Regions from separate parts of the Homo sapiens genome. Here all the other regions are reported to be linked to region 2. Evidence: microRNA targets listed by miRTarBase, many of them from high-throughput screens and not tested one by one. Region 2 holds a microRNA gene; each other region holds the end of a gene's coding sequence.

Region 1 (5,232 bases), not on the chromosome of region 2:
AACAAGGCAAAGATGTCCTCTTTCTCTGTTTCTGTTCAACATGGTACTGGAAGTCCTAGCCAGAGTAATTATGGAAGAAAAGAAGTAAAAGGCAGCCAAATTGGAAAGGAAGAAGTGAAATTATTTCTGATCCCAGGTGATATTATATGTAGATAATTCTAAAGTTTTCACACACACACACACACAAAGACTTAAAATTAATAAATGAATTCAGCAAACTAGCAGGATAAAAAAAATCAACACAGAAAAATGACTTACATTTCCATACACTAACAATGAACAATCTGAAAAGGAAATCATGAAAACAGTTCCATTTACATTAGCATCAAAAGTAATAGAATGCTTAGGAATTAACCAAGGAGGTGAAAACTTGTACAATGAAAACTACAAAACACTCCTGAAAGAAAGCAAAGACATAAATAATGGAATGAAATTCCATATTCACAGATTGGGTAACTTAATATTATTAAGATGTCAATACCACCCAAAGTGATCAATAGATTTAATGGAATCCCAATAATATCTTGTGCAGAAATATAAAGATCCATTCTAAAATTAATATGGAATCTCAAGGGATCCTGAACAGCCAAAAGAATATTGAAAAAGAACAAAGTTGAAGGTCTCACACTTCCTAATTTTAAAACTTACTACAAAGCTACAGTAATTAAAACAGCATGAAACTGGTGTAAGGACAGACATACACACCAACAGAATTAAAATGGAGCTCAGAAGTAAACCCTCACATATATGCTCAAATGATTTTTGACAGGAGTGCCAAGACCAACCAATGGGGAAAAGACAGTCTTTTGAACAAATGGTGTTAGGAAAATGGGATATCCACATGCAAAACAGTGAAGCTGGACCCTTACCTAACACCATACACAAAAATGAACTCCAAAAAGTGACTCAAAATGAATCAAAGACCTAGATGTAAGAGCTAAAACTATAAAAACTCTTAGAGACATAGGTGGCAATGGTTCCTTATATATGACACCAAAGGCAAAGACACCAAAAGAAAACATAGACAAATTGAACCTCATGAAAATTTAAAATTTTCTGATCAACGGACACTATGAACAGAGTAAAACGGTCCACAGAATGGGAGAAAATATCTGATAAAGGATTAGTACCCAGAATATACAGAAAAGTTGTAAAACTCAACAACAAAACAACCCAATTCAAAAATGGAAATAAGAAGCCGGGCGCAGTGGCTCATGCCTGTAATCCCAGCATTTTGGGAGGCGGAGGCGGGCAGATCACGAGGTCAGGAGATCGAGACCATCCTGGCTAACATGGTGAAACCCCATCTCTACTAAAAATACAAAAAATTAGCTGGGCGTGGTGGCAGGTGCCTGTAGTCCCAGCTACTCGGGAGGCTGAGGCAGGAGGATGGCGTGAACCCGGGAGGCAGAGCTTGCAGTGAGCCGATCGCGCCACTGCACTCCAGCCTGGGCGACAGAGCGAGACTCCATCTCAGAAAAAAAAAAAAAAAATGGAGATAAGGAGGGGTGAGTGAAAAAAAAATGGAGAAAATACTTGAATAGAAATTTCCCCAAAGATATACAAATGGCCAGTAAGCACATGAAATGATACTTAAAGTCACAAATCATTAGGGAAAGCATATCAAATAAGATACTACTTCACACCCATTAGAATGGCTACCACCAAAAAAAACAAAAACAAGTGCTGGTGAGGATGTAGGAAAACAAATTTTTTTTTTTTTTTTTTGAGAGGGAGTCTCACTCTGCTGCCCAGGCTGGAGTGCAGTGGCGTGATCTCGGCTCACTGCAAGCTCCGCCTCCTGGGTTCACACCATTCTCCTGCCTCAGCCTCCCAAGTAGCTGGGACTACAGGCGCCTGCCACCACGCCCAGCTAATTTTTTGTATTTTTAGTAGAGATGGGGTTTCACCGTGTTAGCCAGGATGGTCTCGATCTCCTGACCTCGTGATCCACCTGCCTCAGCCTCCCAAAGTGCTGGGATTACAGGCATGAGCCACCACACCCGGCTCTGAAAAATTTTAAACTTTGTTTATTGTTGGTAAGAATGTGAAAGGGTGCAGTTCTGTGGAAAACAGTGTATGTCAGGTCCTCAAAAAACTAAAAATAGATTTACTATATCATCTAGTAATTCTACTTCTGAGCATATACCCAAAAGAGTTGAAAGTAGGGTCTTGAATAGATATTTGTTGTGCACTCAGGTTCAGAGCAGCATTATTCGAAATAGGCAAAAGGTGGAGGCACCCCAAGTATCCATTGACACATGATAGAGAAGCAAAATGCAGCACATACAAGGAAATACTAATCAGCCCTAAAAAGGAAATTCTGACATATGCTCCAACATTGATGAACCTTGAGAATATTATGCTAAGTGTGAAATAAGCTAGCTACAAAAAGACAAATACTTATTATTCTACTTATATGAGGTACCTAGAGTGGTCAAATTCATACAGACAGGAAGTAGAATGGTGGTTTTGAGGGGCTGGGGAAGGGAAAATGGGAAGTTATTGCTTGACAGGTACAGAATTTCAGTTTTGCAAGATTGAAGAGTTCTGGAGACGAATGGTGGTGATGGTTACATAACAATACGAATCTACTTAATACCATTGAAGTATACACTAAAAATGGTTAGGATAGTAAATTTCATGTTAAGTATATTTCATCAGATTTTTTTAACATTTTTAAATAAACCATAAAAAACTATGGTGCACTCACCCAGTATAGCACTACTCAGTAGTAAAAGGAATGAACTATATATACACACAGCATGGATGATTCTCAAGATAATTATGCTGCATGAAAGAAACCAGACCAAAAGAGAGTATAAATACTTTATGATTCCAATTGTGTTAATTCTAGAAAAGGCAAACAAATCTAAAGTAAAAAATGTAAATCAACGGTTTCCTAGGGAAGGCAAGGAGGGAATGTAAAGGGGCATGAGGTAGCTTTGCAGGTGATGGATACGTTCATTATCATGATTATGGTATTGGTTCCCTGAGTGTACATAATATATGTACAAAACTTACCAAATATGAATAATTATTGCATGACAATCACATATCAACAAAGCATTAAAAGAAACTGTTGCACATAAAAATCCAACTTCCTACTCATTTTAGAAAATCCGATTTGGCAACCCTATATTGACTCTGTCATCTCTTTCTTCTTGCCTTGGGAGCAAAGAATGGCTGGCTACGTCATAGATACTACAGTCCCTATAGTATAGGATCTGCTTTTTCTCAGTCCCTATTTTCCTGCCAGCACAGCACTGGCCTTCAGATGCACAGCACGGAGATGGTAATCCACAAAACCAAAACCTTTAGATTATTTGCTCTGCCAGTAACATTAGTCATAGGACAGAGGTCTGAGGTCCTGAGAATTTCTGCAAACCCTGAATCCTGCACAGCCACATTCAAGGGAGCATTCACGGATGCACATTTAGCAGAGTTCCATTTCTGCTGGTTTGCTATAATCTCGCCTACTCCCTATTAATCACATCCAGTGTTTCTGTACAAATTATGGTCCCAGCTGGGCCTGGTATGTCTTACAGTTAAGAGATACCTGCCTAATGCTGAACTTCAGGGCATATGGCTCCTTGGCAGGTGCTAAACAGCATCTGCTTTACAGTATTGGGGAATATGGGGCACCCCCTGGGAATAAGGGACCCAATTCATGCTGTTCCCACATGCACTGGAGGTTGTCACAACTGCCCCCTCCTCGGGATAAAAATTCACGCCATTCAGACCACAATATTATACCCATAAATTCCTACAATTTTTCCTAGGAGGCCTTGGTGGCAATGCAAATGAGGTCAAATCTGGATTGACAGTTGTTTCTCTGCCATCCTCCTGTCCCCTCCAAGATAATCTGGAGACCCCTTCAGTTTGGTAGATCTTAACTCTGCTCTTGAACCACCCCACACAGTGATCAGAACATGGAAGACTAAAGGCGGCTTTATCATAAGGCCATTATCATCACATGAACCAGGGCAATACACAGGAGATAAGTTGTTGTGTAGAGTAACATGAAGGCTGGACAAATCCTTCACAGGCATAACATGAGACCAACAATGTCCCAGAAAAAGGGAAACCTTCTCTAGAACAAGCTGTTGGCAAAACCCTGCTCAGGTCTTCACAGCCAAAAGCTGGTCATGTCCATGGCTAAACCAGCCATACAGGGCGGGAATGACATCTTCCCAAGGCTTCAGACTACTCCTAATTCCCTTTAGGGATTGGAAAGAGAGAGGAGAGGTCTGCCTTCCCTGAGCACAGTGGAGTGGTGGACACACTCTTTGGAGAGCTGCAGTGTGTGGTGCTGACATGGCTTCTATCACAACCCCAGCAGTGAAAAAACGCTGATAAACTCTACAGTAAGAGAATGTAACTTGTCTCCAGAAAGCTTCCAACACAGCTAGCATTCCTAGGGAACCTCCCCAGGGTGGGTACTTGGATGAACAAGTTTCAACTTGTAGTTGACAGCGCCCTGATAAGGTCTGTTCTCAGAGCTTATCTCTGGTGTGTGCTGTGAACAGGGAAGGAGCACATTCTCCATGCTCCTTTCTCTGATGTGAATCTTCTGATGCCGAATGAGGGTAGGCCTTTGGTTGAAGGCTTTCCCACATTCGCTGCATTCGTAAGGCCTGTCTGGTTTGTGAACTTTCAGGTGCTGCCTCAGATTGGACCTCTGCCTGAAGGTTTTCCCACATTCGCTGCACTCATAAGGCCGCTCGCCGGTGTGAAGTCTCCGGTGGTTATTGAGGCTGGAGCTTTGGTTAAAGAATTTCCCACATTCACTGCACTGGTAAGGCCGTTCACCAGTGTGAAGTCTCCGATGGCTATTGAGGCTGGAGCTCTGGCTAAATAACTTCCCACATTCATTGCATTCATAAGGCCGCTCACCAGTGTGAACTCGCTGATGTTTCATGAGGTCAGAGCTTCGGCTGAAGGCTTTCCCACACTCACCACACCCGTGAGGCCGCTCGCCAGTGTGAACTATCTGATGTTGAATGAGGCTGGCAATGTGGCTGAAGAATTTCCCACATTCGTTACACTTGTAAGGTCTTTCTCCAGTGTGAACTCTCCAATGTTTAATTAGGCTGGAGTTGCAGTTGAAAGATTTCCCACATTCACTGCACTCATGGGCACTTCTGCCCGTATGAACCCTCTTATGATGAATGAGGTTGGAACGCTGGCTGAAGAACTTCCCACAGTCGCTGCACTCATATGGCTTTTCAC
Region 2 (5,232 bases):
TATGCTTTGACATGGAGACTGTAGTAACTCAGAATTTAAAGCTGCCATATTGCCAGTGTTAGCCCTGCAGTAGGCATTCCTGTGGACAACATGCCATCCAATCCTGAAGAAAAAGCAAAACACCACTACTTAACAAAGAAAAGGCTTATGCACTGTCCCTTACATTTTTGTTTTTTTTTTTTAAAAAAACAAAACAAAACAGAATCAAGTCCAGTTCACCACAAGTTAAGCACAACCTGGCGAGCAAGTTTAGCGGCATGATGGGGAGAAAACAGTGAGGTACAGCATGCATTTACAACCAGCGCTGATCTAGTCTATTTTGTCATATAAACTTGAATACAAAAATCCAATTTAAATAAGACTAGACTTACTATAATAGTAAACAAACAAAAACAAAAAACAAAAAAAAAAAACACACACAGTAGACTTAGTTTGATACTGATTAATTTTAAGAGTAAACTCATCCTGTCCCCTCTTAATACTCTACTGCAATTTATTGATGGCTAGAATATTTACTGACTTAAAAAAGGTATTAAATACTTGTATCATGAAATTACATTCTTATTAACAATAAGACATACTGTGTAAGAAAATAGCTCATGTGTGAAATGTGTCTGAAATGCATTTTTTCCTTACAACTATCAAAACATCCACTCACACTAAAATGAAACCACTCCCAACCCCCCCTGAAAAAATGTTAAGGGAAGACGGGGTGGGCTGGGGGAGGAGCAAGGAAGGAAAAGATTTAGCTATACTAATTACAGCACAGTGATTAACAATGGTTCAAGACAGAACCAACAAGAGTTGGTCAAAAAGATGCCTTCAATACATGGCTACAATTAAAAACCAAACTCAGCCGCTTTTGGTTCATTGCAGTGAGACCAAAAAAATTATCTCTCACAGATTCATATAAATACTAGACTCCAGCTCTTATATCATTTTTTTTTAAGTTTTTCTGTTTGTTTCTGCAAGGCCTAGCTATCTTATTACAATTTATATTTGCTCTGCAACAACTACAAGAGGTAGGCATAAAGCATGAAAAAGTTTCTCAGTTAGTACCTCGCCATGTGTTGTTCACTGCACAAAACCATTCACTTTGGACATGAATAGTCATTCCTTCTATTATCTTCTAAACTCTAAAGCAAAGCTGCTGCCACCCGTAAATGTTCTAAAAGAGTGTACTCACAAGTAAGAAACTTTCTCTACTGAAGGATACTGTCACAGAGTTTGTTGCAGAGCATCTATATATATATTTATTTATTTATTTTAAAAAAATAAACAACAATGATGAACGAACCCAGGTTCCTAGAACCAATTCTCTTGATTCTCTACTTCCACAAAATAAAGTGTATCATTTGGCCAAGACTACAGATGTGTTTTTTTTTTTTTTCACAGATGCAAGTGCCATGCAAAAATAAATTAAAGAACAGATACCAAAACATACATGTGATAAAACTACAGAAGGTAGATTTTTAAAAGCATTTATATAAACATAATTTATAATACTTCTCTTTTTTCCTTTATATACAGTCACAAAGCTGTAGTTATACATCTAGGATTTCCTCTGCTGTACCCCCACAGCGTAATCTGTAGCGACCAGTTCTCCAGCTTATAGTTGGGTCCCATAATGCAGACAAAAAAATGTATATTGTCATGGATTCGCGGATGAACCAGGCGACTGCATAATCAAGTTTTGAAAAACACAGTGTGCCACCCTAGGAATGGAAAAAAAAATTTTTTAATTTCACTCACTGTCAAACTAAAGACAAGGTTAAAAAATTAAATTCTTGGATTTCACTTTTCTAAGTATACTATGTAAAATCAAGTCTGCTTCCTTATGTAATTTAACTGCCATGTTATACCGTTCAAGAAAATGCTAATTGTTAATGAAGCATTAAAATAACTGCTATCTTAATGTCTTATTAGTTTCAATACTCACTGATTTAATTAACTTCATGTTTTTGGAAACTTAATAAAAGCGATTATATAACCAATAGAAAGTTGCAAATCGACTTAAGTTTTGCATCAACATTCCACTAGAGAAAGTCATGTTCAAACCCGAGACTAACCTACAATGGGAAGCTGAAGAATGGCTCAGATACATTTCCTTCAACTTTTTCTAAATTGAAATAGTTCTAGTTCCACCAAGGGACTGCCAACCTTTTCATGCCTATCCACATACCTGGACACCCCTGAGTTGAATGTAGTCAAATATAAACCATGCCAGGCAATGACACATGAAAAATACCATAATATCCCATCTGAACACATGGTGGGCTGCCCATCCAATAATTAAACTGGCAACAAAGCATTCTGAAATTGGCTCACAAATTATTGTAGCAGGAAGCATGTTAATTCGTAGTTTGGTCCACCTGGAAAAACAAAAAGGATTTTCTTTAAAACAATATCCTGGCTACAAGACAAATCCTTTTTTTTTTCCCTCAAATAATCAATTTTTTTACCCTGTGATAGAAAGACCATTCTCTTTAAACTTTTTTTGTTTTGTTTTTTTTTTTTTACTTGAGACGGGGTTCTGCTCTGTCACCCAGGCTGGAGTGCAGTGGCACTCACTGTAGCTTCAATCTCCCAGGCTCAAGCGATCTTCCCACCTCATCCCACCAAGTAGCTGGGACCACAGGTGTACACGCCACCACACCTGGCTAATTTTTGCATTTTTTGTAGAGACAGGGTTTCACCATTTTGCCCAGGCTGGTCTCAAACTCCTGGGCTCAAGCAGTCCTCTCGCCTTGGCCTCCCAAAGCGCTGGGATTACAGGTGTGAGCCACCACACACAACCTAAAAATTTTTTTTAATGACTCTCTTTTCTATTTTTGTCTAGGATGTCAAAGAAAAATGTCTTTAAATTCATTTGTATGGCCTACGCTCTGATGAATACAGATAATAAAATTTAATCAGCACAGAAAGTTAGAAAATAAAGATCAGCATATTAAAAAATTCAGTCTCAACATTTCTCTAATGAGTGCTTTCAGTGTTATACAGCAAATAAAATACATTTAGACATTAAATTTATCTTAAACACAGACGTTAAACTCTATTTTCTGCAACTAAACAAAAATCTTCAACCTTTAGGTACATTCATTTAACTACATTAAACCTGTAAAAATTACCACCCCCCTCCCCACTTTCCTTTTAACGAAGTATAAAAAGAAAACAGTTGATTTACCTGATCATTCTGGATTGAAACTGAGAAATTGAATATGAGCCAGAGTTTTGCATTGCAACTTGAGTGGACATTGCAAACCTCCAACCTCTGAAAATTAAGATAATTAGAAAATAAGTTATGATGATGAACACATGCAAGCGTAACTGGTTATGCATTCAGTAATCATTATAAAGACCAGGCAACTGCCGGTATTCAGGGTGAGCCCAGCTTTCATGATTAGCACATGACTTAAGGTCTACCATACGTATGGATGTTTTAGCAATTATGCTGGCCCGTGACAGCACCATCTAAGAACTAGAAGAAACTGTACCCACCTTACTTTACAATTTAAGAAACTTAAAATGCAGTCATTTTGAAAAAAAATGGAGAGGGCTCCATATTTAATAGATTAGTCTCTGATGACTACTAACCAAACAACAAGACATGTAAACAGAAAGTGGCATTATGGATCTCATGGGAGACACTAGGAAACCATGAACCACATGAACACAATCATGACAGAATTTGTATTTAAAACACACTTCAGTTTTTAAAAAATTTAAAAGAATTCTCACACAAGGCAGTGATCTCCTTTAAAAACAAGTATTTTAGGCTGGATGCAGTGGCTCATGCCTGTAATCCCAGCACTTTGGGAGGCTGAGGCGGGCGGATCACGAGGTCAGGAGTTCAAGACTAGCCTGGCCAACATGGTGAAACCCCGCCTCTACTAACATACAAAAAAAAGTAGCTGAGTGTGGCGGCGGGTGCCTATAATCCCAGCTACTTGGGAGGCTGAGGCAGGAGAATCGTTTGAACCCAGGAGGCGGAGACTGCAGTGAGCCGAGATTGCGCCACTGCACTCCAGCCTGGATGTCAGGGCGAGACTGTCTCAAAAAAAAAAAAAAAAACCAAAACAAAACAAGTATTTTGTGATAGAGAAATGCTAAGTCAGTCATATGAATCTTTCAGTGGCTTCTTAGCAAAGTATCATATAATTCACTGACAAATTTCAAATTTTGAAATGATAGTCTTTAAATTTTCACCTACTAGTTTATGACTGCACTGATAGTTTTAATTCTTCTAAAACACAGAAATTTGTATCTATATAGTAAAAATTCTAAACACAGAGAAACTTACTTTTAATCGCTTTAAAACACATTAATTTGAAAAATGTAGAGGAATCAGAACATTTACCTTCTTCATTAGTACATATCTACAATTCTATAATTAGAATATGAATTACTCTATAAAATTATTGATCTGCTGGGTGTGGTGGCTCATACCTGTAATCCCAGCACTTTAGGAGGCCGAGGTGGGCAGATCACTTGAGTTCAGGAGTTCAAGACCAGCCTGGCCAACATGAAGAAACCCCATCTCTACTAAAAATACAAAAATTAGTGTGCATGGTGGTACATGCCTGTAGTCCCAGGTGCTCTGGTGGCTGAGGCATGAGAATCACCTGAACCCGGGAGGCAGAGGCTACAGTGAGCCAAGATCGCGCCACTGCACTCCAGCCTAGGTGACAGAGCAAGACTCTGTCTCAAAAACAAACAAAATAATAAAATTATTGACCTATTCTGTACTTACTAGCAAAAAAAATAAAATTAAATTAAAAAGCCCTAATCTATAGGTTGAACAAAAAGAATAAACCAACAGAAGTTAGGTAATAAAAATACTATGGCTTCATTTAGTTGTCTTACCGGTCAGCTATCGCTTTGGCCATAAAGTAATCTTCGGCAATGTACTGAGCAAAAGCTATAAGTCCTCCTGCTTGATCCAACACATCTTTTCTCATTAAACAAGACATTCCTGTCACACATTTGAAACCAGTTACATTGGCAGAGATATAGTATCTTGGATGTGAAGTTCCAAAATATACCTGCCCAAAAAACCACAAACGTGTATGATTAGAATTTCATGTTAAAAGCATGGTGTTCACGAACTGTTTTTCCCAATGGTTTTTTTATAAGTATGATTGAGTGAATATCTTATTATTCTTACGTAGACTACCTGAATAAAAAGTGGTAGACAATATTGCTTTCATAGAGCAAGCACAGTTAGTAAGCTAA
Region 3 (5,232 bases), not on the chromosome of region 2:
AGATGAAAAAGAATAGGTTCTGCATGAAGTCAAAGAGATAGATCACAGCAAAACATGTGGGGGTAGCCATGTTTATACCTACACATCAATTGGTTACCACAGAGAGAGAGAGACCATGCTTCTTTTTTCTGTTTATACAACATCCAAAAGAGGCCAAAGGGGTTTAATTCAATCTCATCTCAATACTGTGGCATCAGTAATCTGAGACCAAGAAACTTTTAAATGCACCCACCTGAGATGACAGCCCTTTGTAAAGAAGAAAATTAATTATATAGCAGCATGGTATAGTGAGAGAAATTTTTTTTGAGCCAGATAAAATGGAAACTGGGTTTTATCTCTTACTTGTGGGATGACCTTGGGCAATTTACCAAATTCCTCATCTGTATGTGGGAGTTATCCTTCTTGTTCATATAACAGGGAGAATGAGAGTCATTTGATGAGTTGTACCCATCAGTGAGATGGGACACATATAGCACCTACACAAATAGTACCTACACACACTCAATGATAATTAGTTCCTTTCTTTTTTCCCATCACCCAATGTCATTTTTTTGTTTTAATCCAAGATTTTGGGGCTTTCTTCTGAGGTAAAAATTATTATTATTATTTTTTGAGATAGAGTCTTGCTCTGTTGTCTAGGCTGGAGTGCAGTGGCGCAATTTCAGCTCACTGCAACCTCCACCTCCCGGGTACAAGCAATTCTCCTGCTTCAGCCTCCCAGGTAGCTGGGATTACAGGCGCCCACCACCATGCCCAGCTAATTTTTGTATTTTTAGTAGAGACGGGGTTTCACCATGTTGCCCAGGCTGGTCTTGAACTCCTGACCTCATGATCCACCCACCTTGGCCTCCTAAAGTGCTAGGATTACAGGTGTGAGCCACTGCGCCTGGTTGGTAAATTTTTTTTCTTGTATTCTGAATATAGGAATTCAATCAGAGATGTTAAAACAAAGAAAGATGGTACTCTCTGGCATGTTTCAATCTTATTCTATTGCATGAGTGCCTGCTAGAAATAATTACAAGCCATTCATGAAATCAAGGTTGGTTGGGAATATTGGACTCCTATATACTGTAAATGGTATCTTTGCCCCTCTGCAGTCCCAAACTAATACTAGAAGTAAGGTGTTTTAATATCTAAAAGAATGTTTCCAAATTAGTGTGGCGAAGCTAATAATACATTGTGATCATGGCACATGGTGGTTTGCTGTGAATGACAGCTGAGGGGATGTCAACAAGCAGTATTAAGCAAATTTGATGCTGGTGATAGAACAAGATTGTACCAACAACAACTGTGTCAGCTTACAAGAGAGTAGGGCAGAAGCGCTGGGTAACTGTTGAAAAGGAGAAAGAAATTGTGCAAACTGAAAAGTCTCAGAAGCACTTAGATGGCTTGGTAAGTTGGTTAGTGCTGTCAAATATTATCAAGACCACCCTTGTATTCAAGGTAACAAGATGCATAGACTTTTTTTTTTTTTTTTTAAAGTAAAGGCAATGACCTAAGCTAATCCAGGGAAAAATCTGTAGCTCCTGTAACACAGCCTCCTATTGAAGAATTCAGTGCTGATTAGGACCTGTCTCATCCAAAGGTTTATCACTAGAATTACCAGAAGACCGAGTAGCATGTATACCTTTATTCTAATCTCCTGAAAAAATTTAGAAGGCTATGCTTAAGAAAATGTTGGTAGTAGATGTAATAATAAATCAATACACTCAAGTTTAGGCCCATATAGATTCCCAACTAGTGATCAGTTCCTTGCTTCTTAGAGTAACTGAGCAAATATATGATGAAAAGCAATGTATAAAATTCTATCCAAGAACAAATTTGTGATGTTCAAAAACAATCCTTTGTTATATTGACAATATAGATTTAAATATAGCTTTATATAATAAGTTTGTCAGGGTAAAGTCAGAAAGGATGTGAACTGAGAGGACTGCAGAAGTTTCTGTTAAGGAAAAAAATCCAACTTCCTTTAGTTGATATACCCAAAGATAAGTGTATTCAAAATGCAATTCATTTTTTTTCAGAACAGAGTTGACTTCTTTGTGGAAACTATTTTCGGATAAAAAGAGAGCCTATATACCCGGGGGAAAAAAACCTCTCAACATTTTTTAGTTACATGAAGAATTACATGAGGCACCTAGCATGTTCAGTTTGTCAGTAACTCAATTAGTCTTTTGACAACTGACTTGCGTCCCCCCATCCCCCTTGCCCCATATGGCTCTGTTTTGAAAAGAATTAGAGTCATGCATCATTTAATAACACAAATACATTCTGAGAAATGTGTCATTAGGCAATTTCATCATTGTGTGAATATCAGAGTGTACTTACACAAACCTAGATGGTGTAGGTAGCCTACTACACACCTAGGCTATATGGAATCCCTGTTGCTCCTAGGTTACAAACTTGTGCATGTTACTGTATTGAACACTGTAGGCTATTGTAACATCATGGTGAGTATTTGTGTGTCTAAACATAGAAAAGCACACTAAAGATACCATATTATTAATATAATCTTTTGGGACCAATGTCAAATATGTGGTTCATTGTTGACTAAAACATCATTATGTGTCATATAACTGTATCTCATTTCCTAGTCATTCTCTTACTCATCTGCAGTTTTCAATTATATGAAGAAAACATCTTAAATATGTTACAAATGTGCAGAAATAGTTCTTTTTCCCATTCTTAGTTATAGTTTTGCTTTTACGTAACTCATTGGGAGTCAAAATTAAATGTTAAACTAGGAGTCAGAATGAAAGATACCTAGTTTCACAATCATCTCAACTGAACAAAAGTTTAAATTTAAAAAAAGAAAAAACATATTAACAAGAATATAGTATGGTTGTCCTCCAGGGACCCAATCCCAGCAAAGAATTGTGTATCTCTTTCTAAGGAATTCTGTGAAGCAGATTTGTTCGGGCCAGTGACCTGAGGCATTAGAATGAGCCCTGTCTCTGGAAACCTGAATTCTAATCTTGATTCTTTGACTAACTTGCCTGGGTTTTAAGATTTTTAGGTAATTTATCCTCTCAGCATCAGTTTTCTTACCAAAATGAATGCAAAGGCTATCCTGATTTCTAAGGTGTCTTCTGGTATGCCAAAGTATTGGTATGCTTAAGATTAGAGGCTTTATTTGGATGAAATCAGTATTTAACTTTTCCCAAATTTGTCAGTGTTCTCACTGGGTTCACACTGAGGGCTTTACTCTTTTTTCCTTCATAGAGATACTAGATCCCCTTCTTTCTTTGGCCAAGTCCAGCGGAATTTTTTCTTAACTCTCTTCCTAAGACTTGTTTACCTCATTCCTTTCCCCTTTCATGATGTTTCCTTCACTTCATTTTCCCTTTGAAATATTTTAGAACCCATTTTTCGCATATTTCATCCCTGTGAATGCTACTATATCTAAAGTAGTATTTTATTATTTTTATATAAAAGAAACTTTCAGCAGCTCTATTTCTGCTTTACTCATTTCAACTCCTCTTACTTGGCCCTGCACTAGAGTGCATTCAATGCTTAAATGCATTTTTGATTACTACAGTGTGTTATAATCCAGCCTTTTTTCATTGCCTTAAAAAAAATCCACATGAATCTAGGAAGTTATTGGTATCATAAATCTTTAAAACTGTAGTTTTAAAAGCACAAAATGAACTGAAATAGTGTTCATACCTAGAATTAAATAAGCATTTGAAGGCCTCTTCTTCCTCACTTAAATTTTTTTCCACTGATTCAGATTGGGAAAAACCATTATGTAATTTAGATCAAAATGCTGCCATCAAGCAGGGTTACCAGCAGTAGATCAATACTATTTCAAACTGTTAGGTAAGCATGCATGTAGTCTGGAGGGATTTCACAAACGTGACAGCTGTGGGCATCTGAGGTCTTCTAGCCATAAGAACTCAAGAAATTTTTGTTTGATGAAAAAATCCCCAAATAAAGGACTAAGTTAAGTTCTCATTGATCATTCCTACTTGTGGGCCAGAAGAGCTGATTATTACCAAACATAGTCATTGGGAATATCCTCATGCTTTCTCAAGTCCTTCTGTCTTCATTTCCAGTTACCTGTTAGCTTTCACAGGGAAATTTGCATGATGAGGTCTAGCATAGGGTGGAAAGCAGGCAATTCAAAGGCCACCCAGTTCCGAAGAAGGACTTCAGTCCAATGTTGGACTGTTTTCCTGAGTCATCTTTTGGTATTCCAAATATTGTGATTTATAAAAAATCTTCCATTCAAATGTTATTAAAATTGAAAATTTAAACTACCGCTGAGAAATATAGTTTCCAAGTTCAGTGTTATTTTCACAGTATTTAATGGGTTTACTATATAAAAACATCAGTTACACTTCAGGCTTCATAATATTTTTCAAATTTCCACTTTTGATATGGCTTCACTGGGTCACAGGCAGCTACTTTCAGGATCTTTTGAGAAAAATTTCCTTCCAAGCATAATAATTGCTGATTGTTTTCAAAAACAATGTGATTCACCTGGAGAGAAAGAAGAGCTGGGAATGAGCCACAGGCTGAATTTGATAACTGCAATATGAAGAAATGAAAATCAATTAAAAAAATGGACAGGCAGTTATATTTTTGATTTTTAAGAATTCTTCTGAACTAAATTATTAACATAAACACAGACTTTGAAAAGTATTAAATTTGTCTCTGTCTCAGACTAAGTAATCATCCTCCACCAAGCTATAAGACTTTTAAGTCCTCAGGAGGCAAAAGAAAAATTTCTTGATGATATGGCTGAGAACTATACTCTTTAAAGAGAAAACATTACAGATGACATTTATTGGATTTGATAGATGATAACTACTTCATTGATGGTAAAGAAAGAATACATACCGTAACAAAAAGTTAATTAATTTTTAAAGTAGGTGTCTTTGTGAGTTTGGATTACAAAATTCTGGAAGTGATGTATTTTATTTATGAGCTCCTTACCATAATCTCTGACAATTCATAATAACTGATGTCCAAAATCCAGATTAGGAAAAAGTCAACAGCATTAAAGAAAGTTATATTATTGCTTAATATTTAGTGAATATCCTAGAAATGGTAGATAAATTAGATAGACCTTACTAATGGCTTATATATTTTTTCATCTATAAATTTTCTTAATTACGTATGACTATGACAAAGACAATCTTAATTACACATGTTGTTTTTAAACTTTAAAAAGTTATCAAACAGGGGTGACTTTCATAATAATTTATTTTAAAGATTGCTGCTACAAAA

Evidence for each region. The annotated mature microRNA hsa-miR-4668-3p reads GAAAAUCCUUUUUGUUUUUCCAG and lies in region 2 at 2,373-2,395, opposite strand. An mRNA with a match to its seed (bases 2 to 7 or 8) in the 3' UTR can be bound and repressed. Matches are read on the target gene's strand: a 7mer-m8 pairs with bases 2 to 8, a 7mer-A1 pairs with bases 2 to 7 and ends in A, and an 8mer does both.
Region 1: miRTarBase lists ZNF792 as a target of hsa-miR-4668-3p. Seed matches in the 3' UTR shown: 7mer-m8 at 3,118-3,124 and 7mer-m8 at 3,092-3,098.
Region 3: miRTarBase lists GALNT5 as a target of hsa-miR-4668-3p. Seed matches in the 3' UTR shown: 7mer-m8 at 3,920-3,926, 7mer-m8 at 3,575-3,581 and 7mer-m8 at 1,955-1,961.

What each region holds. Positions count from the first base shown.
Region 1 is chr19:34,953,539-34,958,770 of GRCh38, forward strand. It overlaps ZNF792 (zinc finger protein 792), which reads right to left. Exons shown (of 4, transcript NM_175872.5): 4 at 2,816-5,232. The coding sequence ends at 4,418. Among named protein-coding and RNA genes, the nearest start is that of ZNF792, 8.1 kb to the right of the region's middle.
Region 2 is chr9:111,929,310-111,934,541 of GRCh38, reverse strand. MIR4668 (microRNA 4668) reads right to left here and starts at 2,442; the gene lies at 2,373-2,442. It overlaps UGCG (UDP-glucose ceramide glucosyltransferase), which reads right to left. Exons shown (of 9, transcript NM_003358.3): 6 at 4,864-5,042; 7 at 3,185-3,271; 8 at 2,183-2,372; 9 at 1-1,715. The coding sequence ends at 1,545.
Region 3 is chr2:157,310,458-157,315,689 of GRCh38, reverse strand. It overlaps GALNT5 (polypeptide N-acetylgalactosaminyltransferase 5), which reads right to left. Exons shown (of 10, transcript NM_014568.3): 10 at 1-4,482. The coding sequence ends at 4,342. Among named protein-coding and RNA genes, the nearest start is that of ERMN, 13 kb to the left of the region's middle.